Linked DNA regions of Homo sapiens. The protein of the gene in region 1 purifies or fractionates together with the protein of each later gene. This does not show direct contact. Each region holds a gene or a part of one and is shown on either strand. Other genes may lie near its edges. The genes, in order: SETD5 and TBL1XR1.

Evidence for each region.
Region 2: the proteins of SETD5 (region 1) and TBL1XR1 purify together in Homo sapiens (affinity purification with mass spectrometry; 2 studies listed by BioGRID). This does not show direct contact.

Annotation. Positions count from the first base shown.
Region 1 is NC_000003.12:9,442,510-9,452,811, forward strand, and holds part of SETD5 (histone-lysine N-methyltransferase SETD5), read left to right. Parts: intron 1-798; coding exon 799-908; intron 909-2,538; coding exon 2,539-2,791; intron 2,792-3,147; coding exon 3,148-3,231; intron 3,232-4,540; coding exon 4,541-4,798; intron 4,799-5,176; coding exon 5,177-5,497; intron 5,498-5,878; coding exon 5,879-6,121; intron 6,122-6,970; coding exon of another isoform or gene 6,971-7,036; exon of another isoform or gene 7,037-7,083; intron 7,084-10,302.
Region 2 is NC_000003.12:177,016,972-177,030,055, reverse strand, and holds the end of TBL1XR1 (F-box-like/WD repeat-containing protein TBL1XR1), read left to right. Parts: intron 1-3,581; coding exon 3,582-3,683; intron 3,684-4,531; coding exon 4,532-4,558; 3' UTR 4,559-10,712; downstream 10,713-13,084. UniProt on the Homo sapiens protein: F-box-like protein involved in the recruitment of the ubiquitin/19S proteasome complex to nuclear receptor-regulated transcription units. Plays an essential role in transcription activation mediated by nuclear receptors.

The DNA.
Region 1 (10,302 bases):
GTGTAGTTATATTAAAGAGATTGCCATACGGTGGAAGTAGATGTTGTTAGGCCTAACTAAGCTATTTGGTTGCAGTTTTTTTAGATTTTAGTGAGTAATGTTTTATGAGAGGATCTAGACATTTCTAGAATTCATTACTCAGAGCAACCACATCAAATAAAGCAAGAAAATCCACAGAGCTTTACTTACTGGCTAAGGAATTTTAATTCTCTGGTGGAGCTGGAAACAGCTATAAGATGTGAAAGCGGCTGGGCGCAGTGGCTCATGCCTGTAATCCCAGCACTTCGGAAGGCTGAGGTGGGCAGATAACAAGGTCAGGAGTTCGAGACCAGCCTGGCCAACATGGTGAAACCCCGTCTCTACTAAAAAAAAATAGAAAACTTAGCCAGGCATTGTGGCGTGTGCCTGTATTCCCAGGTACTCAGGAGGCTGAGACAGGAGAATTGCTTGAACCCGGGAGGCAGAGGTTGCCGTGAGCCGAGATCACGCCACTCCACTCCAGCCTGAGCGACAGAGCAAGACTGTATCTCAAAAAAAAGATGTGAAAGTAGAGATTTTACCCTGATTTCTAACATCTCAAGGTTTCTCCACATATTTAAGAAAGTATTATAAATTTTCAAGCCAGTGCAGTATAATAGTTTCAGATGAAATGAAGGGGTTAAATAACAGATTACCATAACTCCTTAAATAAATAATAGATTACCATAACTCCAAATGGAGAGAAAGTATGGTTTTTTTCTCTCTTACGGAAAGTTCATGGTCTTTATGAAAAATCCAACCAGAAGCCTTTTCACACAGGTGCGACACATGATTGCAGATGGGATGATTCACCTGTGCATCTATGCTGTGTCTGCCATCACCAAGGATGCTGAGGTCACCATAGCATTTGATTATGAGTATAGTAACTGGTAAGACCTCAGAAACCTTTCCTAACAGGAATATCCATGTCTTACATATTAAGCTATTCACTCTATTTAAAGTCTGCTCTTGTTTCTTGCCTTTTCCTTTGTTTACTTAATCTTTTCATGACTAATGAATTTTCTGCCTAGAAATTGTAAAGGAAAAGACAGGCAAGATTTTTTTTAGAGATACGGATACCTTGTATGATACTGCTCACAAATTTCCTGACAGAAGTGTTTTCGCTTATGCCTTTTTAGCAAGAATAGCAAAATGGATATATATGTATGTATGAGACACTCCTGGAAATTACAATAGCATCCTGTTGTTATGCACAGAGTACTTATGTCAGGGACCATATAGAATGAGAATTTAGGCCAGGCGCAGTGGCTCACAGGCCTGTAATCTCAACACTTTGGAAGGCTGAGGCGGGCGGATCACGAGGTCAGGAGATCGAGACCATCCTGGCCAATGATGAAACCCTGTCTCTACTAAAAACACAAAAATTAGCTGGGCGTGGCGGCACACGCCTGTAGTCCCAGCCACTTGAGAGGCTGAGGCAGGAGAATCACTCGAACCTGAGAGGCTGAGGCTGCAGTAAGCCAAGATCACGCCACTGCACTCCAGCCTGGCAACAGAGGGAGACTCTGTCTTAAAAAAAAAGAGAGAGAATTTAATATGTTACCTCTACTTTTAATTTGTCAATTATACCCTTATAAAGCTAGGGGTGAGATTTAAAGATCCACCCTGTCCACAGAAACCATGTTATCTAGCTGTATATGACAGTGCAGAAAACCATAAAGGGCAATTCATAGATGAATATGTGGGATTTTTTAAAGTATATGCTTTTTGTTCTTTGGTCATTTGGGGCAAAATAGAGGTTATGTGGTAAAGTGATGTTTGGCCCAGGTATAAGGAAAAAAGATGTTCTGCTTAATTCATCAAGGAAAATAAAAAAGGTTTTAAGAAGGTTATAAAAGGTTTTAAGAAGTAGGGAATTAGTAGGTAAAAGTGAGGACATGGTAATCGTGGGCACAAGATGAGTATGGCCACATCAGACTTTATCATTGATAAACTGCCTGCTAAATAGCCAATAAACCACTGGGGGGATTGAATTTAGGGAGGGCTTTCTTTTTTTTTTCCCACTGACCATGGAGTAGAATTGGGGTTACACAAAGAAAGACAGAATATTGAAAGTGTTACGTCAGGCGCGGTGACTGACGCCTGTAATCCCAGCACTTTGGGAGGCTAAGGCTGGAGGATCACTTGAGCCCAGGAGTTCAAGACCAGCCTAGACAACATGGCAAAACCCCGTCTCTGCCGAAAATAAAAAAATTAGCTGGGCGTGTAGTCCCAGCTACTCAGGAGGCTGAGGTAGGAGGATCACTTGAGCCCAGGAAACAGAGATTACCGAGAGCTGTGATGCACCACTGCACTCCAGCCTAGATGACAGAGCGAGATTCCGTCTCCAATAAAAAGAAAAACAAAAGTATTTATAGGACTCTCTAATGTCTCTGTTTAACTTATTCAGAGACAATATCAGAGGAAGTTACTGTACTGATATTTTAAGAGGGTGAATGGATAATGTAACTGAATTTCAAGGGTACTGAGACAGGCATTTTGGTTGTTTCTTTGGAGCAGTAATTATAAAGTGGACTGTGCCTGTCACAAGGGAAACCGGAATTGTCCTATACAAAAAAGGAATCCTAATGCTACAGAACTGCCACTCCTACCACCTCCTCCAAGCCTACCCACCATTGGAGCAGAGACTAGACGTAGAAAAGCACGACGGAAAGAGCTAGAGATGGAGCAGCAGAATGAGGCTTCAGAGGAGAATAATGACCAGCAATCACAAGAAGTTCCAGAAAAAGTAACTGTATCCAGTGATCATGAGGTAATCGCCCCTGGTCAAATGATGATGCTATGGCATCAATCCTCCAAAGGAAGAGGAACCCGGGTTGCCGCATGGTTTAAGTAGGGGAGCTATAGTAACACTTAGTGCCCTTTATATCAATGTGGGTTTATTGTGTTCATACATTTCTTTCTGTTTTACAAAGTCAAAAACATCCTTTGCTGGTTTTGCACCAGAGAATAGGGGTTAGTTATCATCTGTGTTTACCATGTGGCCTCACATGAGTTAACAGTTTAAAGCACTAGAGATTGTTATAGAGAGTTTTAAGCTACCAGAATAAAACAGATTGATTTTTTCTCAGAGCTTGAGTACAGCTGAATATTGCCTCTATCTTAAAGGAAGTAGACAATCCAGAAGAAAAACCAGAAGAAGAGAAAGAAGAGGTTATAGATGACCAGGAGAACCTAGCTCATAGCAGGAGGGTGAGTACTGTCTGACATTACTTTGCTCCTTCTCATTCCTGCTACCTCCATCATGTGAACCTCTTCTGTTCTCTTGACTTTGTATCATCTCATTGATTTGACCTGAAGGTTATAATTTGGGCTTTTTCCGTAATAAAGATTTTATTATAATTTTTTTATTTATTTTTCTCTATACACACAGTAGTTTTGTAGTGATTATTATCTAGTGATGGTTTGAAGAGGTTGTTTTTTTTTTTTTTTTTTTTTTTACTAACAATCTGGTTTCCGCTGGGCGCGGTGGCTCACGCCTGTAATCCCAGCACTTTGGGAGGGCGAGGTGGGCGGATCACGAGGTCAGGAGATCGAGACCATCCTCGCTAACACGGTGAAACCTTGTCTCTACTAAAAATACAAAAAATTAGCCGGGCGCGGTGGCGGGTGCCTGTAGTCCCAGCTACTCGGGAGGCTAAGGCAGGAGAATGGCATGAACCTGGGAGGCAGAGCTTGCAGTGAGTGGAGATAGCGCCACTGCACTCCGGCCTGGGCAAAAGAGCGAGACTCCATCTCAAAAAAAAAAAAAAAAAAAAAATCTGGTTTCCGAAAAACTGGCTGGTCAGAATCAAAATGTATTATAGTTGGTTTGCTCTGAATTAGGAATTTTCTAGGTTTTTGTGAGTTCTGAAGTTTTTTTAAACCCTTTTAGTCATATGAACTAAAATTTTCTACTTTTATGCTGAAACCAATCCTGTGTGTTTATGACCCTGATTTGATGACTTTTTTTTTTTTCTTTTTGAGACCGACTCTTGCTCTGTCACCAGGCTGGAGTGCAGTGGCGCAATCTCAACTCACCACAATCTCTGCCTCCCGGGTTCAAGCAATTCCCCTTCCTTAGCCTCCCAAGTAGCTGGCATTACAAGCATGCGCCACCATGCCTGGGTAATTTTTTGTATTTTAGTAGAGACGGAGTTTCACCATGTTGGCCACGACGGTCTCAATCTCCCGACCTCATGATCTTCCCACCTCAGCCTCCCAAAGTACTGGGATTACAGGCGTGAGCCACTGCACCCATCCTGTTTTTCTTTCATATTAAAGTTTCAAAATAACTGACCCTTTTTGAAAAGTTTATGTTTGACCTTGCCTTTATTTACAACTATTCCCCACATTTAAAATGAAATATTTTATTTTTAATCTTCTGTTTTCCAAGTTATATGTGTCATCTTACTGGTAGTTAAATGAATTTCTGTAAATTTCCATTAAAAATACTTTTATAAAAGCTATCCACTCGTCCTCATTTGAAGCTTCCTTCTACACCAGTACTATCTCTTTCTAGACCAGGGAAGATAGAAAGGTAGAAGCCATCATGCATGCTTTTGAAAACTTAGAGAAAAGAAAGAAGCGGCGGGATCAGCCCTTGGAACAGAGCAACTCTGATGTAGAGATTACTACAACCACCTCAGAGACTCCTGTTGGTGAAGAGACAAAAACTGAAGCCCCTGAATCTGAAGTTAGCAACTCTGTTTCAAATGTTACCATCCCAAGCACCCCACAGAGTGTTGGTGTGAATACCCGGAGGTCTTCCCAAGCAGGGGTAAGAGTTGAAAAGACTTCAGCACTTAGACATCCTCACCTTTGCTAATGTCAATACCTAACTTTTGGAATTTTTAAAATCAGTGTTTTCAGCTTTGCTCCATATCACAATAAATAAGGCCATTAACTGTTTAACTGGAACCATTTCATTGGCCTATTTTATAAATGCTTATTAGAAATAACGCAAACATTTGTCGCTAGCCTCTTTAGCTCATTTAAGTGTATACATTTTTGTATTTAAAAATTAGATTTTAAATTAGTGTTTCTAATCCTTATATTTTTCATCAGTAGACATTCTGAATGCTTAAAGTGAATAGGAAATTAGACTGTTTGCTGATAAAACATTTCTGGTAAGCATCTGACCCTACTATTGCTACAGGATATTGCTGCAGAAAAACTAGTCCCCAAGCCACCTCCAGCAAAGCCTTCTAGGCCCCGGCCGAAGAGTCGAATTTCTCGGTACAGGACCAGTTCAGCCCAAAGACTAAAGCGTCAGAAGCAGGCCAATGCACAGCAGGCAGAATTGTCACAAGCTGCCTTGGAAGAGGGAGGAAGTAACAGTTTAGTAACTCCTACTGAAGCTGGAAGTCTAGACAGTTCAGGAGAAAACAGGCCATTAACAGGGTCTGACCCAACTGTGGTGTCAATTACTGGATCCCATGTCAACCGTGCTGCATCTAAATACCCCAAAACCAAAAAGGTAAGTCACAAATGCATCCTTTATAAGTCCAGTCTGGCAAGGGCTGTCTTAGTGAAATGAGAGGACCTATAATCCCTAGAAGAAACTAATCTCAATATTACTAGATTGAAAGTTCTAAAATGCTTTGACACAAAAGGCTGGAGTCATCCTGCTACCTGTTTCCTTATTTTTAGTCAGCTTAAATCACTGATAGCTGAAATTATTCCTCTCTTAGTGGGCGTGGAGAGGGTGAAGGAAGATATCCTTGTGTTCTAGTTGCTCAATTCATTCTTACTGCAGCTGCTGCATCTCCTCCTGTCCTAGTTTCTAGATGACGTTTGTCTTTATGAACTACACTGCTACCTCTTGATTTATAAACTAATGATCTCTTTTTTACCTTAGTATCTAGTTACAGAATGGTTGAATGACAAAGCAGAGAAGCAAGAGTGCCCTGTTGAGTGCCCTTTACGTATCACAACGGATCCAACTGTACTGGCAACGACCCTAAACATGTTACCAGGTCTTATCCATTCCCCGTTAATTTGCACCACCCCCAAACACTACATTCGCTTTGGCTCACCCTTTATCCCTGAGAGACGTCGAAGGCCCCTTCTGCCTGATGGCACATTCAGCTCCTGTAAGAAGGTATGTCTGTGTTTTTGTGTGTGTGTTGTGTTTATGTGTGTGTGCTTTATTTTTTTAAGCCTAAGATTCCTATCATCATGACATAAATAAAATGTTCTCTAGATAGCCACTCTGCCCATGTGAGTTTATAATGAGTTAGTTGTTCAGCCATAAATACTGATTCATCAAGAGTCTGTGAGACTGTGGTGGAATGAATGTACTGCATTTTTAGTGCTCAGATTTGTGACTGGTCACTGATGTCTCTTCTGAGAACCCTTGAGGTTCCTGAGTGAGAGCACACAGCAGTGGATGACTGGGTAGAGACGGATATGTTTTGTGTGTGCTCTTGTGATATGGGTTAACATGTCCATTTATGATTATTGTGTGAGATTAGGCCCTGGGTCCTCTAGAACACTGTTGCATAAATGAAAAAAATTAAATTGTTTTGAATCAATTCAACCGTTATTATCCACTATCATCACTTGAAGGAAATTAGAGGAAAAATCCTATTGTAATTGGCATAATTCCTGTTCCTTGATCAAATGACAAGTCGGACTGTTTATTCCAAGAGAATACAGAATCTACCCTAAAAGACTCTCTTTCCCTCTCTGTTTCTGCCTCTTTCTCCTCTTTCCAGTTACTTACTGTTTTTGGATCTAGTGGCAGTAGCGTTTGGTGGTGTTTTTGGAATGCTCTTTCTTAATTCCCAGAAGCCCTGCATATTTTCCAAAGGTGTCTCTTAGGAATAGATCACTCCCTCAGATCTATGATGTCGTTTTCCATGTTTCTAGAAGTATAGGACACCCTTTCATTTGGTCTTCCTTTGAGGTAGAGTCTGTTCCCTGGAACACCCTTTTCTCTTATCCTCAGATCTGGATTCAGGCTGCCTTCCTCAGTGTCTGCCATTGCCCTCCTCCACTGGCATCACGTACATGAGGATGCTGCATGTAGATTATTTGATGTGATGAAGTCTCCAACTCCAGGCAGGTCTTCCCTGACTCCTCCAAACTTAAAAGCTTTTCTCTTTCCCCAAAGAACAGAAGTTATTTCTCCGGGGGAGGGGGGCATGAAAGATGAGCCAAAGTGGTGTGGGATATGGAGGGGAGGAGGGCAATAGGAATCTGCAAAAAGGAAGGACACTACTGCTGAATGAGCAGCACATTGCAGAAAGTCTTTTCCTAATTGCACATCTTACCTAAACATTGGAATCACTCATTGGTTTGTTCGGGGAAACGCTCGTAGAATTCCTAAAGAGAAATTTGACCATTTCTAAGGATGTTAACTGTTGAAGCATCTTATCAAGCCAGGTCGTACAATCTCCTATTTTGGTCCTTTAAGGAGTGTAGGCAATTATTTATTACAGATAAGTAATGAAGTCTGAGCTGCAAATAATATGAACTAGGCTCTTGAATTGAAATTCCTTCTTGATAATTCTAATGCTGGGTTGCAGTCTTTCTGTTTCCATCTTTTCCAACTAGCAGAGACTTAACGAAAACCAAAAACGTGTCTAGGACTGTAACTTCAGATCTGGTAGAAAATGCATTTCTTTAAGCTTTTTTAACTTGGTTCTGCTTTTATACTTGTATCTATAGCACATCCTTAAATTTCTACGGGCAACAGATAGAAATTCCATTTAACACAAGTCCCTGTTATATTCTCCAAGTGTATCTGACTATCCTTAATCTCATTTATACAGGCTCTACTCAAGCACTTTTATCTATGTGTCATGGTTAGTCTTTAGGAAGAGTTTAGGCTGCATACACAGGATTATCATAACAAGACTATTTAAATAGGATCTTTAAAAACTGTTTAAGTCATTGCTTTATTGTGTGCTGTTCACATATCAAGATTCTATTTTTTAAAATACAGCTTTTTATGAGGCAAAATAAAATGAAATGGAATGTTTTAGCTAGAATAGAATTTGGCTTTATAGCAGTGAAGAAGAGTTCTTCTTCTAATATTGGTCTTCTTCTAATATCTCCTAATATTGGTTAGAAAGGACTTACCTAATGCAGAACCTAAGAACATTTTCATTATTCAACAAAATTGTAATAAAATTCTGAAAATCCCTCAGAGTATAAGTTAATCAGATAGATAAGAAAACCCTCCATGGGATTATTTAGAACAATGTATATTTCTAATAGGCTCACTGTTTCATATCTCACTAAAGAGGTAAGGGCCTGGCCTTGTAAGTTAAAAACTTACCAGTATAGGACAAATTAAAGTTGTATCTGTATAGTTGTACTCAGATTCTTATGCTATTTATTTTTATTTTTATCATTATTATTCTGCAACTTCTGAAAAGAAGAGGAGTTCAGGTATTTGACAGAACATTTTATGATATCCCTAGAGTTTCTAAATTGAATCATAGTTTTTAAGAAGCATTTTGCATTTTTTAGTTCCTCAGTTGGTATTTTAAAAACATTTATAAGTGGCCAACAAGGCTCTCAGTAGTGTTTCACCTTGTTCTCTCTAAACTCCTCTTCTAAACACAATGTGTATAGGGCATTTGGTCTCCAGACTTCTTAGAAAAACCAGTCTGACTGATAATGAAACAGTGTGCTTTGCATTGATAATTAATATTTCATTTTATACACTGGAGCATTATCTGTAAATCTCCAAACATAGCATTGAAATTTAGTTGAACCGGGACTCGGTGAAAATCTGCTCAGTGTTCAGTACTGTACTATAAGCTTTCTTCACATACATTATCTCACTTACCATGCATGAAATTGGGATCATTGTCCTAAATTTATATATCCAGAAGCTTTGTCTCAGAAATGTTTGGTAACTTGTCCAAAGTGAAGCAGCTAATAAGTGACACAGCCAGATTTCTTCTGGTGGGGGATAGTAGGGGTTCACAGGGTCTCACTGTTGTCCAGGCTGGAGTGCAGTGGCATCATCACAGGCTCACTGCAGCCTTGACCTCCTGGGCTCAAATGGTCCTCCTACCTCAACCTCTCGTGTAGCTGGGACCACAGGCACACCACCACGCCTGGCTAATATTCATATTTTTTGTAGCGACAGGGTTTTGCTGTGTTTCCTAGGCTGATCTCAAACTCCTGAGTGCAAGGAGTCTGCCCACCTTGGCCTCACATTCTGCTGGGATTACAGATACGAGCTACTGAGCCCAGCCTCACAGCCAAGTGTCAAGCCAGGGCTTCTGGACTCCAAAACCTGTATTGCTTCCTTGCTCTTTCGCCATAATAGCGAGACCTTTAAAATATTTATCCATCTTTGAGCCTCCCAGAAAACTCCTTTGCAATATATTTTAATAGAGGTTCAGAGAAGGGAGAAATGTTCTTTTGATTTTAACAACTTGCTGAGTAGGTGCATCTAAAATTAACTTATTATCCATGAGGTTAATTGTATCTTGTTAGATACAAACAAATGTCCATGTTCCTTTTTTATATGAGTCCTGAAATATTGTAAAATTATACAACAGAACCTGGAGGAGTAGGTTTGATTGTATTTGCTGTGTTTCACCTCATAGCTAACCATGGTAGCATCTTTCTTCTAGAATACTCCTGTTCTGATTTTATGTTCCCTTTTTGTAGTCATCAGATCCAGAATGTAAATTATTTTACAAGTACATCTACTAGACCCTGGAAATATTAAAAAATTACTCAGATAGGAAAGCTTAGTGACCCCAAATGAGTGTTTTCTGCTTTGAAAAGAAAAACTTAAAGGTGGCCATAACAAAAGATTTTTCACTCCTGAGCCTAATTTTTCCATTTATAAAATGAGTGCTTTGGACAAGATGACTTCTAAGTTCTCTTCTAAGCTTTAAGGCTATATGTATGGTTCTGACAATTCATCTTTACATCATTATTCTGTATCTAAGATAGTTCATTCTTCGGATTTTTTATTTTGTTTTTGTGTTTGCTTTTCAGAGACCTGGTTGTATCCTAAAATGTTTACGTGATTCAAATTACCATTGAGAGCTCTTTTTTATATCCTTGTTCACTCTTCCTTCCAAGTGTTTACAGGTTTACAGTTTCAGTTTTGCTTTCATTTGGCCAGCCACAATGACATTTGTATGATGTAAGATTTTTTTTTTTTTTTTTTTTTTTTTGGTAAAATTTTTGTGGATTGTTTCCTAGGTTTCTAAGAGGGAAAATCTATGAGAATTGCTCTCTGGTGAAGAGAGTATTTACTTACCTGTAATACATGTTCTCTAAAGGTATAAATTATAATAATTC
Region 2 (13,084 bases), about 170 Mb from region 1:
ATACGGTATATTTACGTGCTTGTGCCTAACTGCTCTTCAACGTGCATACACCCATTTACATTTCTAATCACAATATTTAGGATTTCCCATTTTCCTTTATCTTTAGGTTATCAGACTGGTGAACATTTTTCCAATTACATGGATATGAAACATTTTGTATTTGCATTTTCTTGATTGTCAATTAGTTTAAATATCTTTTCAAATAGTTATTATACAGTTGGACTTTAGCATTTTAGTTCACCACCACCACCACAATTTTTCAATTGTTTTATATTCTGTACTGATTAGTGTTCATTATGCATTCTGGGTACTAATCCTTCCTGGTTATATGGATTCCAGTGATCTCCCAGTACCTTCTTTTTTATTTTCTTCATGTGGAGTGTTTATCACGTAGAAGTTTTGTGGGGTTTTTTGGTTGTTGTTTTGTTTTGTCTTGAGATAGAGTCTCACTATGTCGCCTAGGCTGGAATGCAGTGGCAGATCAAGGCTTACTGCAGCCTTGGCCTTCCTGGGCTTAGCTAATCCTCCCACCTCAGCCTTCCAAGTAGCTGGGATCACAGCTGCATGCCACCACACCCCACTAATTTTTGTATTTTTCTGTAGAGACCGGGTTTTGCCATGTTGCCCAGTCTGGCCTCAACCCCCTAGGCTCAAGGGATCCACTTGCCTCAGCCTTCCAAAGTATTCCTGGGATTACAGGCATGAGGCATCACGCCCAGATCATATGAAAGTTTTTAATGTTAATGTTTAGATGTATTTATCTTTCTTTTTAAAATTAGTTGATTATTTTTAGAGATAGGGTCTTGCTGTGTTACCCAGGCTGGACTCCTCAGCTCAAGAGATCCTTTGACCTCAGCATTCTGTGTAGCTGGGTCTACAGGCACATGCCACTGTGCCCGGCTAGATCTTTCCTTTTTGATAGCTTTTTTTTTTTTTCATAGCTTAATACATTTTTCCTTATAGATATCACTGAGGTCTGATATTTTTTCATGAAGTATCTAAGTTTTATTCCTTTACATTTATTTTTTTAGCCCCTTTGGAACTGATTTTTATATATGGTGTGAGGTATAGATATTTCCATTTGGGTAGTCAGTTGTCTTAGCACCATTCATTGTCCCCTTTCTGTTTTCATAATGCCGGTTTCATATACCTAGTTCATGTATATGCAGTTTGTTTATTACCTTCTCTTTTATTCCATTTACGTATTTGCCTTATCTGAATCAATAGCATAGTTTTAATAATTCTAACTTTATAAATCCCTCTTGTTGTTATTCTTCAAAACTGTTTTTCTGTTCTTGCCACTTTAGTCATCCATATTTCCAAAACAGAGCACACAATTTTGGATTTTGTTTATGAGTGCCTTGAATTTATAGGTGAAATTAGGGAAAATCGTTATTGAGTTTTATCACCCATAAATACGTTATACCTCCATTTATTTGTCTTTTATTCCTTTGGTAAAGTTTTATAGTTTCTCTAAGGATCTTTTTTCCTAATGTGTTTTGAGGTGCCTTATGGTTTTTATGTTACTATGAATGACCTCTTTTAAAAAATACATTCCTTTTATATACTAGTTGTTGCTCACATTTAGAACATTTTCAGTGAACTCATTTAGTCCATTGTGACAAAATCAATTTTAATGAAATTTGGGCATAGAACTGTAGAGTGCTAATGGAAGATACTACAAGACATTGAAGGGCATTTGACCAACTGTTCATATTATTTTGTTTTCACTATTGTGTACCAAAAGTCTTACTTTTTCAAACTTTGAAAATAGTAAAACAGTGAATTTTCAGTGCAGGAGAAAATCATTATCCTATTGTTGTATATACATCCAGGTTTTTTGTTTTCCCCTTTCTTGTATGATGAGTTGCCTAAGCATTTGATGAGTAAATTGTAGAAGTCTTGTGCCAGCATACATACAAATTTGAGGTAGATGCCGATGATCTGAGCCATTGGCCTTTTTAAATGTCTTAGCTCTGCCTTGTTGCCCATAATGTTTTGGTTCGTTATAGCCCAGTTCAAGCTTAGAGATTGGTAAGTGCTTTTTAAAAGAAAGTTGTTTTGTTTTTTTAACCCCCAAGTTGGCTGTAGATTGAATGTCTGTAGGTTGACTGTAGATTTTATTTTTTATATCTCAGCAAACTAGATTTTGTTGGTTCTACTTTTTTCTCTCCTCATTAACTATAGATACTCAAAGCCTACTATACTTGAACTTAATCTCATAAATTATGAGAAATTTTAAGTAAACAAAACAGTTGAGCCTTCCCAGCCTGATAATCAGTAGCAATGTGTCAGTACCAATGCATCTGTGATTTGTGCCACATTACTGGGCTAAATTTGAAGAGGAAAGCTCGGTCAAACATTCTTCCAGCTTGTCATCTTGGATAGGCTGAATGGGAGGTATTTTCAAGGTGCATGGTTTGTTGCCATGTGCTTTTAAGTAGATCTGCCACCTCTAGCTTGACTTTAGGTTACCATAAAGCTGCAGAGGTCACTTTTCTGATTTGTCAGGGCCGAACACCTGAAGCATATATTTCAGTTTTCATAACAGGACCTCTGATCTTTGTCCTGTTATATTGACTGGTTTCATAGGAGAATATATTTTTGGATTGAGTTTTAATTCTTCAGTAGCAGCTGAATAATAAAATAACGTTGTTACATTTATGATTCAGCTTAATGAATGATTACATTATTAGTATTCCTGCCTGTGTTTTTTGTTTAAACATATAACGTCTTTCAAGAATAGTGTACATATCTGTCTGGGCACTGTGGTGCATGCTTATAATCCCAACATTTTGGGAGGCCAGGGTGGGTGGATTGCTTGAGGCCAGGAGTTCAAGACCAGCCTGGGCAACACGGTGAGACCTTGTCTCTACAAATAATTTTTTAAAAATCAGCTGGGCATGGTGGCATGCACTTGTAATCCTAGCTACTTAGGAGGTGGAGGCGGGAGGATCACTCTAGCCCAGGAGTTAGAAGGTGCAGTGAGCTATGATTGCACAGCTGCATCCATCCTGGGTAACAACAAGACCCTGTCTAAAGAAAAAAAAGGAACATACATACATTATTTTAGCTTCTTTTATAATCCCCTAGCTTAGGAACTGGTCAGTAAATATAGAGTGAATAACAGATTTATACTGGAATTATCTTTACTAGTTTGTTATACTTCCTCTTTAAGATGTTTTGTCAAAGAAATTCTGAATTTATTTTGTTTCTCTACATGTTAGCTAGACTCATGTATCATTTAGCAACAACAAAAACTTATTTCATGTGATAGACTGACTGTTTACTTCTAGCTATTGTTGGCTATGTCAGAGAGACCAGATACCTTAGCCAAGAATGGTTATCAAGACTGGAGAAACTGAATATGTGTGTGAGTAATCTTTTGAGAACAGGCTGGTATTATCTTTTTGTAAAGGGATCATATTACATTTCTAGAATTTCAGAACTTATTTTTATAGTTGAAGCTAAGTCCCTCCTCTGATTGCTAGAAATAAAGCTATGTAATATTTTTATTTCAGCATTTGGATTTATTATAATATGTATTACGATTTTTAAGATTTTGTTTTTCATTCTTTTAGACAGGTGCTCTAGTTCACAGCTATAGGGGAACAGGTGGAATATTTGAAGTTTGCTGGAATGCAGCAGGAGACAAAGTTGGAGCCAGTGCATCAGATGGTTCAGTAAGTATAGTAAAGTGTTTCCAAAGAGGGTGTGGGTGGGTATTCACATCAGAATGCAGCTTATTGTTAGTGATACCAAAGTGTTTTTTTCAAAATAAATTTTAAGGTATGATACTGATTTTTTTTTTTCCTGAGGCTGTAAACTTTTCATGTGCGTTGGATTCAAATAATGTAAACAAAATTTAGGCTGTCCTTACCAAATACCTTATAATCTAGAAATGGACAGTTATTTTTAATATGAACCTTCATTTATGAAATTAGGTATACCAGAGGAACATTCTGAGAAGGATTGAAATGTTTAATGTGTATTTCTACCTTCTCCTCTTCACAGAAGAATTTTTTTGGCCCAGGGAAGGCAGAACTAGAGGCAGTTGGTTCCTGTGTTGAGGAATGTGTGATACTGAAAGATTTTCAGGATGAGGTTAGCCAACTCTTTACAACAATGCAAATATGGCTTCCAAAGCTGTAGAAGCACCAGAAGGTGGGAAAAGGGTAGCTATTTACTGATGCTGTAGCTGAATATAATCTGTGATATCTTTCATTAGGGTCCAATAGATAGGAAATGGTCTGTTTTGAGCATTTTCCCCCTCCTTTTTAATCAACAGAGAGTATAAAAATCCTAGCCGTGGTTCTTCCCCCACAGTTTGAGCTCATGGTTGTTCTCTTGATCTGCTTAAATGATCTGTCTGATTTCTGTCAGTTAAGTGCTCATTTCCATGATTATTATGCTTTACCAATTTTATAAACTTGGAACTAAGAAACATTTCAAATTGTACTATAGAAAAGTTAAACATAAAATGTACAATAAAATTCTGAATACACTGGTTGATTATTTTAATTTCTTACAGGTTTGTGTATTAGACCTTCGGAAATAGCGCTACTAGTTGGAAGCCATGGACCGACTATGAATGTGTACATAGCCAAAATGACTGTCCCTGACCCATGTACTGCTATAGTCCCACTTGAACCATGGCCAGTCCACTACAGCCAAATCTAAAAGAAATATATACATACAGTGTATATAAACAAAATTGCACCCTGAAGATGACAGAGTTTTGTCACAGCTTGTGAATTCTGTTCACCAAGTGCTGGAATCTAATCTGCTGTGCCCCTAAAATAGCATTTAGAAGTTTTGGATATGAAAAACAGAAGAGAGAAAAATATACATTATAAAAGCAGAACATACATGTACCAGTTTTTGGATACTAAATGACAGCCTTGTTTCTCCCCTTTGAATCAGCAGACACCATGGATTATATTCTTTTTTTCCCTTCAGTAGTGAGCAGTTTGTATGTACAGAGAAAATGGACTTACAAAAACTTGCAGCAGTAGTTTGTTCTTGCTTTAAAATTTCGTTTTTGGTTTAGATTATGGATGCATGAAGTAAGGGAGTGAATCAGTTTCTTGTTTATATTTTTTTCACCTTTTAAACAAAAAATTCTTTAAAATATTTTAATGCATTCTTTTGAAGAGGTAGATGTTTGGTACATTTTATGGCTCCCAGAGCATATATTCAGTTGGTGCATGTTGTGGAAGGGGGAATTGGAAATTAAATGAAAACCTATGACTTTGGTCATGTCAATCTGTAAGACACATCAGTAAAAGGGTATTATGCTCTGTTGGTTTTGTTTTTTTGTTTTGCTTTTTTTTTTTTTTTTTCTTTTTTGTTTTTTGGTGATGTGGCTTAAATGCAATAGTTTCTTTTTTGGGACATATTTCTGCCAATTAAAGACTAGAAGGGCACAACTTTTTTTTTAATTACCATAGAGAAGATACATTAAAAAAAATCTTCTGATGTTTTGTAGCCATAACTAAATTATGGTAAAAATGTGCACTATTGTGAAAAGGAGCAACGTAGTTTTGGGTTTTTTGTTGTTTGTTTGTTTTGCTTTGTTTTTTAAGAGATTAAAATGTTTCTGGATAAGGATTAGCTTCTCGAAGTGTCCATCATTCTGTGTAGAAGCTTAAATATGTAATGTAACCAAACTCCAGTATTAAAAATCTCTCATGTTGTTTTCTTTATACAAAGCAAGATAACGGCATATAACACTGCCATTACATGGCAAAATGTTTGCTACCTTAGTTTAAAAAACAATCTCAAACAAAAGACTTGCTTCAAGGTGTTTTTAAATAGCAGTGATTCAGAATTTTTTTTAATGAAAGTATAATTGCACTAACCTTCTTCCTGCTGCTCTGATTCTGCATTTGTGGTACTTGTGACTACGTTTTTTCAAATATAGATAGATTTAAGCTGCTAATTTTTTTTTTTTTAGTAATCACTACTATATCATGTCTTTTACTCTGTTTATAATATCAAGTATTTTCTTAAAGATATAGATATTAAACCTTGTGCTCATGCAACTTAGAGTAACATATACAGACAAATGATTGCATGAGGCCATGTTTATATGTGTGACTAATAAGGCTTGTCATGATTAACATAATCCAGGTATGTCATTTCTGAAGAGAATAGTCATCAAATTTATATCTCGAAGATTTTAATTAAGGAATTGCTTATTGTTGAGCTTAGCAAATTAATAACACTATTTCTGTCACTAATTATTTTGAGGCCTTTTAGTACTAAAATTTTAACCTGTGTTCTAAGTAGAAACTGATTTAACCCAAGTAATGCAGCTTTGATTGATTTCAGCATTCGTTGCTTTGCTATTTTTACAAAACAGCATTGATTGAAGCAAGTCTTGGTTTTACTAAGGTAGGGTAGCATTTGCTATTGGTAAAGAGAATAAATACACTTAATTTCACAATACATTGTTATATGTACCCCAGTTGTTGTTAGTGGGGACTATGATACTGTAATAATATTTTTAAAAATTTACATCAAGAGAGGCAGTCATTCACGATGGTTTTGTGCCAGCTCTTTTTAGGGTTTTGGATCACATTAGAGATATTTAGAACATATTACCCTGTGACTTACGTAGGAAACCTAATATGCTGAGTATCTGGCACTTGAATTCCTGCTTTTATTGCTGGAGGTCCACATCTGTGGTTGACCTCTGTTATTGTTTAAAAAAAATAAATAAAAATTAAAAAAATCTGTGCAATAATTTTAAAATGTGCTCCCAGGAATAGACACAAATGTTTTGAGTATCTTTTAAGCTGCATTTTCCTTTAGTGATGCATTTGTCAATTGCACTGAATTTAAATCTGAAAGTCAGAGGTGATTATTGATAGTACTTTTGTATTTTGATATGGACAGTTTATTCATTTGCATACAGTTATTGACTTTTTCCCAGCTGATTAAAAGATAGTCAAGAAATTCTGCAATATAGCTGCCAAAATAGACAGCTACATTTTTATGATATTGTCATCTTTTCTGTTTTTTTTTTCTTTTTTTTCTTTAGCTATTTTACTTAAGCATAATAGCCACAATAGGACATATAAAAGATTATAAATACAGAGCTTTATTATCCTGACGTCTTGGGTCTTTTAAGTATATACTTTTCTGAAAGGTATCCATTTTGTAGGCTTGGGTTCTTCATGAGCATACGATTGTTTATTTTTGCTGCTGTTCTCAACATCATCATTGCCTGCTGATGTGCCACGATGCTGCTCCAATAGACAGCAATAAGATTGTCTCTAATTTGAGCAGTAACATGATTGCAAGAGACCAAGTTTCACAGCTTGTAAAGTTCTGTATTTGGGATTCTTGCTTATTTTTCCGCCTGTGTTTTTCTGAGAACTTATTCCTGATGATCAATTGAATCCAGTAGTTTTTCTATGCTATTTGTTGTTGTATAAGCTACTGTAAGAAACTTATCATAAGGAAAAATAGAAAGGAAAACTTGAATCAATACTCATTGATTAAAATGGAATAAAGAAAGAGCAGCTGCCACTTTTAAACAACATAAAGGAATATCTTTTTTTGTCTCCGTGTAGGAAATCCCATAAGTTCTTATATTTGTTCCAGTTCCCATTTCCTGCCATTGACCAGATAACATCATTGACTTTCAAATGACTTTTAGAAGTGATAACTCTTAATTTCCTAATAGATACTAGATTGTATTGAATTCTGTTTTAATTATTCTCTAGGTAAGTATGTTTTAGGATTAAATACCTTTTACAGATACTGAAAGTGCCTCCTTTTGTGGTGTAAAAAACAAATTATGGTGCAAAAAGTAATCACTAGATTGAAATACATGAAGGTTTTTTGCTTTTTGACATACGAAAATGTCAAGAGAAAGGCCAAAGATTTGTACTTTTTCACTTACAAAGCACTCCTTTTTCCCTTAAACTTCTTTCTGTCAAATTAGATTTAATGAGAGAGTACTATTTTTAAGGAGCTATCTGTTTATGTAGAATGATTTTGTTAAGAGTAATGTAAACTATTATTGAGTAGAGGCCTAAAGAGGACTGTGCATTTTTGCTATTTAAAGGAATCACAAATGATCATACTTAAGTGAGCAAAAATGACAAGTTTTACTAGCTAAGTAGAGAAATAAATCTCAAATGCAGCGCTACAATTTTCATTATCTTAAGTACATTGTACATTTCTACAGAACCTGTGATTATTCTCGCATGATAAGGATGGTACTTGCATATGGTGAATTACTACTGTTGACAGTTTCCGCAGAAATCCTATTTCAGTGGACCAACATTGTGGCATGGCAGCAAATGCCAACATTTTGTGGAATAGCAGCAAATCTACAAGAGACCCTGGTTGGTTTTTCGTTTTGTTTTCTTTGTTTTTTCCCCCTTCTCCTGAATCAGCAGGGATGGAAGGAGGGTAGGGAAGTTATGAATTACTCCTTCCAGTAGTAGCTCTGAAGTGTCACATTTAATATCAGTTTTTTTTAAACATGATTCTAGTTAAATGTAGAAGAGAGAAGAAAGAGGAAGTGTTCACTTTTTTAATACACTGATTTAGAAATTTGATGTCTTATATCAGTAGTTCTGAGGTATTGATAGCTTGCTTTATTTCTGCCTTTACGTTGACAGTGTTGAAGCAGGGTGAATAACTAGGGCATATATTTTTTTTTTTTTTGTAAGCTGTTTCATGATGTTTTCTTTGGAATTTCCGGATAAGTTCAGGAAAACATTCTGCATGTTGTATCTAGTCTGATGTACTTATCCATCTCATTACAAACAAAAACACACAGACTGCATTTGTAGCTCTGTAATCCTTGAATACGGAAGTAAATTTTCTTCTTTCCTGACTTTGACATTGTAGCTATACTGTTTCCATTTTTGTTTTTACAAATCCTTTGGGTCTAATTCTGTGAGCCTACCTATAGCACTGGATTAAAATGTCTGCATCATTTCTTTAGTTATCCAGTTAACTTTAAAACTGTTGTAAAAGTGTAAACCAGCCCATGACAGGTTTTTGTACATGTTAAAGAACTTCATTGTTCAGTTTTCATGATTATTGTGTAAGGAAGACTGATGTAGATGTTCTGTGCTGTCCTGGACCATGTTAATTACACTTACGACGTATTTTAGTTCCACATCACAATGATTTGTCCCCAGTGACCCTTTTATCCTTTCTAGGCACATTTCTTGTTGTTGTTGTTGTTGCAGTTCCCCTTTGCATTGTATTGCTTTGACAACTGTAATTTGAATCAGATCTGAAAGAGGTCCAGAATAAAATATATTTTGATATTATGTTGGCTGTGTACATATATAAAACCTTTGATGTCTATGTAGTTTATATAGACTATTTACTAGTCAGGTAAAGAGAGAGGGATGGTATTTCTTGTTTACAGTTTGTTTACATTTTAATTGCTTTTACTTCTCCAGTGTTCTATTGTAGAATAAACCTTTTTTTCCAAGTTAGCCTTCATAACCTATAACACATTCATTCTCTCCCATACTGGTGTTACTGATTAATAACTGCCATCAGAACCCAAACCACTGTTTTTCATAAACGTATTGTTTCCCAAGATATATACTTTAAGCCCATAATAAAATTACAAATTTTACTATTTTTATTACTTCTTGCAGGAGATAAGATTTTTTTAAATGAAGGGGTTATTTACTATTTTTATTAAAGTATAATAGAGCATCTAATCAGCTAAGGGATTGTAATTTTTAATTCTTTTGAAAAATAAATATTGTATTTAAAAGACGTTATTTCACAGAAGCTGAAAAAGAGACCTTAGATAACATTTGTTTGGTTAGCCACACGGTTGAGCACAAAACAATGTGTAGATGTGTTGAAGATTAGGGCAGGAGGCTCAACTTCTCGGTGACCTTTTTTTGCTTCACAACAAGCCAATTATAGTTGAATCATTTTCTCTCTTAGCTAGTTGTTACTACAAACTTTATAAGAAAAACAACTAGACACCTTCTAGTTTTAATTAATACCAACTCCTTTAGAGTTAGAGACTTTTTAAAAAGAATCATTGAGCATATTTTCTTTTTTTTTTTTTTAAGAATTTACACTCTCTAGGTCTTCTATTTTTCCTGTTTATTTCCTTAAACAGAAATAAATTCAAGCATAGTTTTATGTTTTATTAGAAATAAGCCACTGCAGTTGCTAGAACTGACATGCTTTCATTTTCAAGGGGTTAACTTTTATTGCATGGCATAGATTATTAGTAATATCCTGCATTGTATACTTTTCCAAAAAGGGTTGGACTCCTAAGGATTAGAATCCTTATAAGCTTGAGGGAAAGCTGAAACTAATTTGAACAGTAATAGAAGGGATTATTTTTAATTTCATAGTTAACACTTTACAATGGATTAGATTTATTACCTAGTATAATCCGTAGCAGATCAGATCAAAGTTTACTGTTTTACCAATATATTCATTTGAAAAAATACAGTGGAGGAAAAGACACTTTAGATGGTAGTTTTATGGTGCTTTTCTCTGCTGTACCAAAGTGCTTTGTCATCAATGAAATGTTAACCCTATGCTACTTTTTCTGCATGCTTCTTAAATGTCATCTTAATGCTTAATTGTCCTAACTTGTAATATTTTTGTATTAAATTTTTTTAGGAGTTCCTTGTAATTTCTTTACAATTTAAAATATATTAAACACAAAGTGTTTAGTAAAGTACAGAAGACAATTACTAATGTTTCTTGGTTGTTGGGTTTGTATGATCCATTGGGCAGACAATTTATATTTTAAGAACTAAGACCAATGGGGTGGAATCTATACCGAAAAAGATATCACAGTCTTATTTAAAAAAAAAAAAAACAAACTTTCTGACATACTAATCTAATGTCAGAACGAGCTGCCTTAAGAGATGTTGTGCTGTCAGAAAGCCGTAAAGCATAGGTTGGATTGCCACTGGGCCGGGCTCCTGTGGAGAAAACAAGCACTGCCTGAGCACCTCAAATAGACTTGCATTAAAAAATCTAGTCACATTGAACTTCACAGTCTGAAATCAGACATTTAAAAACAGGATCAGCTTCCAGGATCTCTCACATTCAATATAGGGGATTTTGAAGAATCTACACACTGCCAAGACAAGACCTTTTCCCTAAGCTTTTATTGGTTTAATTTACGTACACTTGCTGGACCAGATCAATTATCTGATTTTCCAACCTGGGTCCATGAGGAACAGTGCTCCCCATAGAGAGGGAGGAATAGCTAAAACTCCTAGCAGAATGAAGAGCTGCCATTTGGGATGGCCTAGAGTCATCAAATAATTCAAGTTAAGTTTAATATGACATAAAAATTAGCTATGTAATATGGATTTTAATATTTCCACCTGAAATGGTTGAAATATTTTAGTGTGTGGGAATAAACTGAAGTTGGACAGATCTGGTGTTGAAGTAAATGAAGTCTGATAAGAGTCAATTAGCGGTAAGTTCATTCTACTTCTTAAACAGTGTTGGTTAACTTGGAATGTGCGTTGGAATCTTTTATGCCTTGTCCTACCCATTGACCAATATGGTAGCACAAGGTATGTGTGCTGCTTTTCATATGCTTGTTTGGTTTTGTGTCATAATGTGGGAGGTGGTTGTCACTAGCATGTGGTATATTTATTGTAGAGCACATGCTGGTTAAAGAAATTTAAATACAAGGTATAAATAATAAATGTTCATTTTCAAACTCCCAACCAAGTCCTTAGTGGTATCCACTGTTAACAACTTGACATATGTCCTTCTAAGCATTTTCAATACCTACTTTAAAAAAAATACAAAAGAGATCATAATCATTGAATTCAGAAACTCACTTTTTCACAGAAACCATCAGGGACCATTGTCCCATCCACTTAAGTACATTCAAGTACTTCCCTATACTGTAGATGTAGAATATACTGTATGGTTTAAAGAGCATGAATTCTGCCTGACTGACTACCTGGGATGAATCCAGACCAGCTGCTTGGCCTAAGGAGTTGCTGTCTTGGTTTCCTTGTCTGTAAAATGGGGATAATGATAGTTACTTTTCTCATTGATGGGTTGTGAAGATTACAAAGTTAATATATCTGAAGCCCTTAGAGAATGGTGCCTGGTTATATAAAGCACACTGTATATTACCAAACATTTTTATTCCTAATGGTAAGATTTTATTGTACACCAAGATTTAGCCCCCTATAATGTAAATTTACTTTTTCACCGTTTACTATTACAATGGAGCAATAAAATATTCATATCTACAGGACAAATAGAACAGTCAATTCTGATGTACACTCGTTTAATACACACTTCAAGGATTCTTTAAAACTCGCCTCCCTTGGACGGGCATGGTGGCTCACGCCTGTAATCCCAGCAATTTGGGAAGCCGAGGCGGGTGGATCACAAGGTCAAGAGTTTGAGACCAGCCTGACCAACATGGTGAAACCCCGTCTCTACTAAAAATACAAAAATTAGCCCGGCATGGTGGCGCACGCCTGTAATCCCAGCTTCTTAGGAGGCTGAGTCAGGAGAATCGCTTGAACTCGGGAGGTGGAGGTTGCAGTGAGCCGAGATCGCACCATTGCACTCCAGCCTGGGTGATAGAGCGAGACTGTCTCAAAAAAAAAAAAAAAAAAAAAAAAAAAACTTTGCCTCCAAGCCACTTTCTGGCACTAACAAGGTATGATTTCAAAAGGAGCCATTTAAGAATTTGTAGAAGGGAGATTGAAGAGTGCTTTGTATATTTACTCAGTGTAGTACAGGAAAGAGAGTAATCTAGACCTGTAAGTAACAATCTGGGTTATGGGTTAGCAGAAAACAACTAAATTTTTAAGCCTATGCTCTTTAGCATTTAATGACTAAATACTAATGATGTGATGAAGATTTTGTTAAACATGGATGAAAATTTTTCTACTGTAGAGCACAATGTACAGGCTAAATCCAATTATAAACTTCATGGAACTACCAGACTTTTAATAGCATATATTAATATTGCTGGAAGCCAGATTCCTGGTCTGTTTGCTAAATTAGCAGACATTTGGATTTTTTTGTAGGGCTTTTTAAATTTTAAGACTATTTTCACCCATTTTGCCTTTCA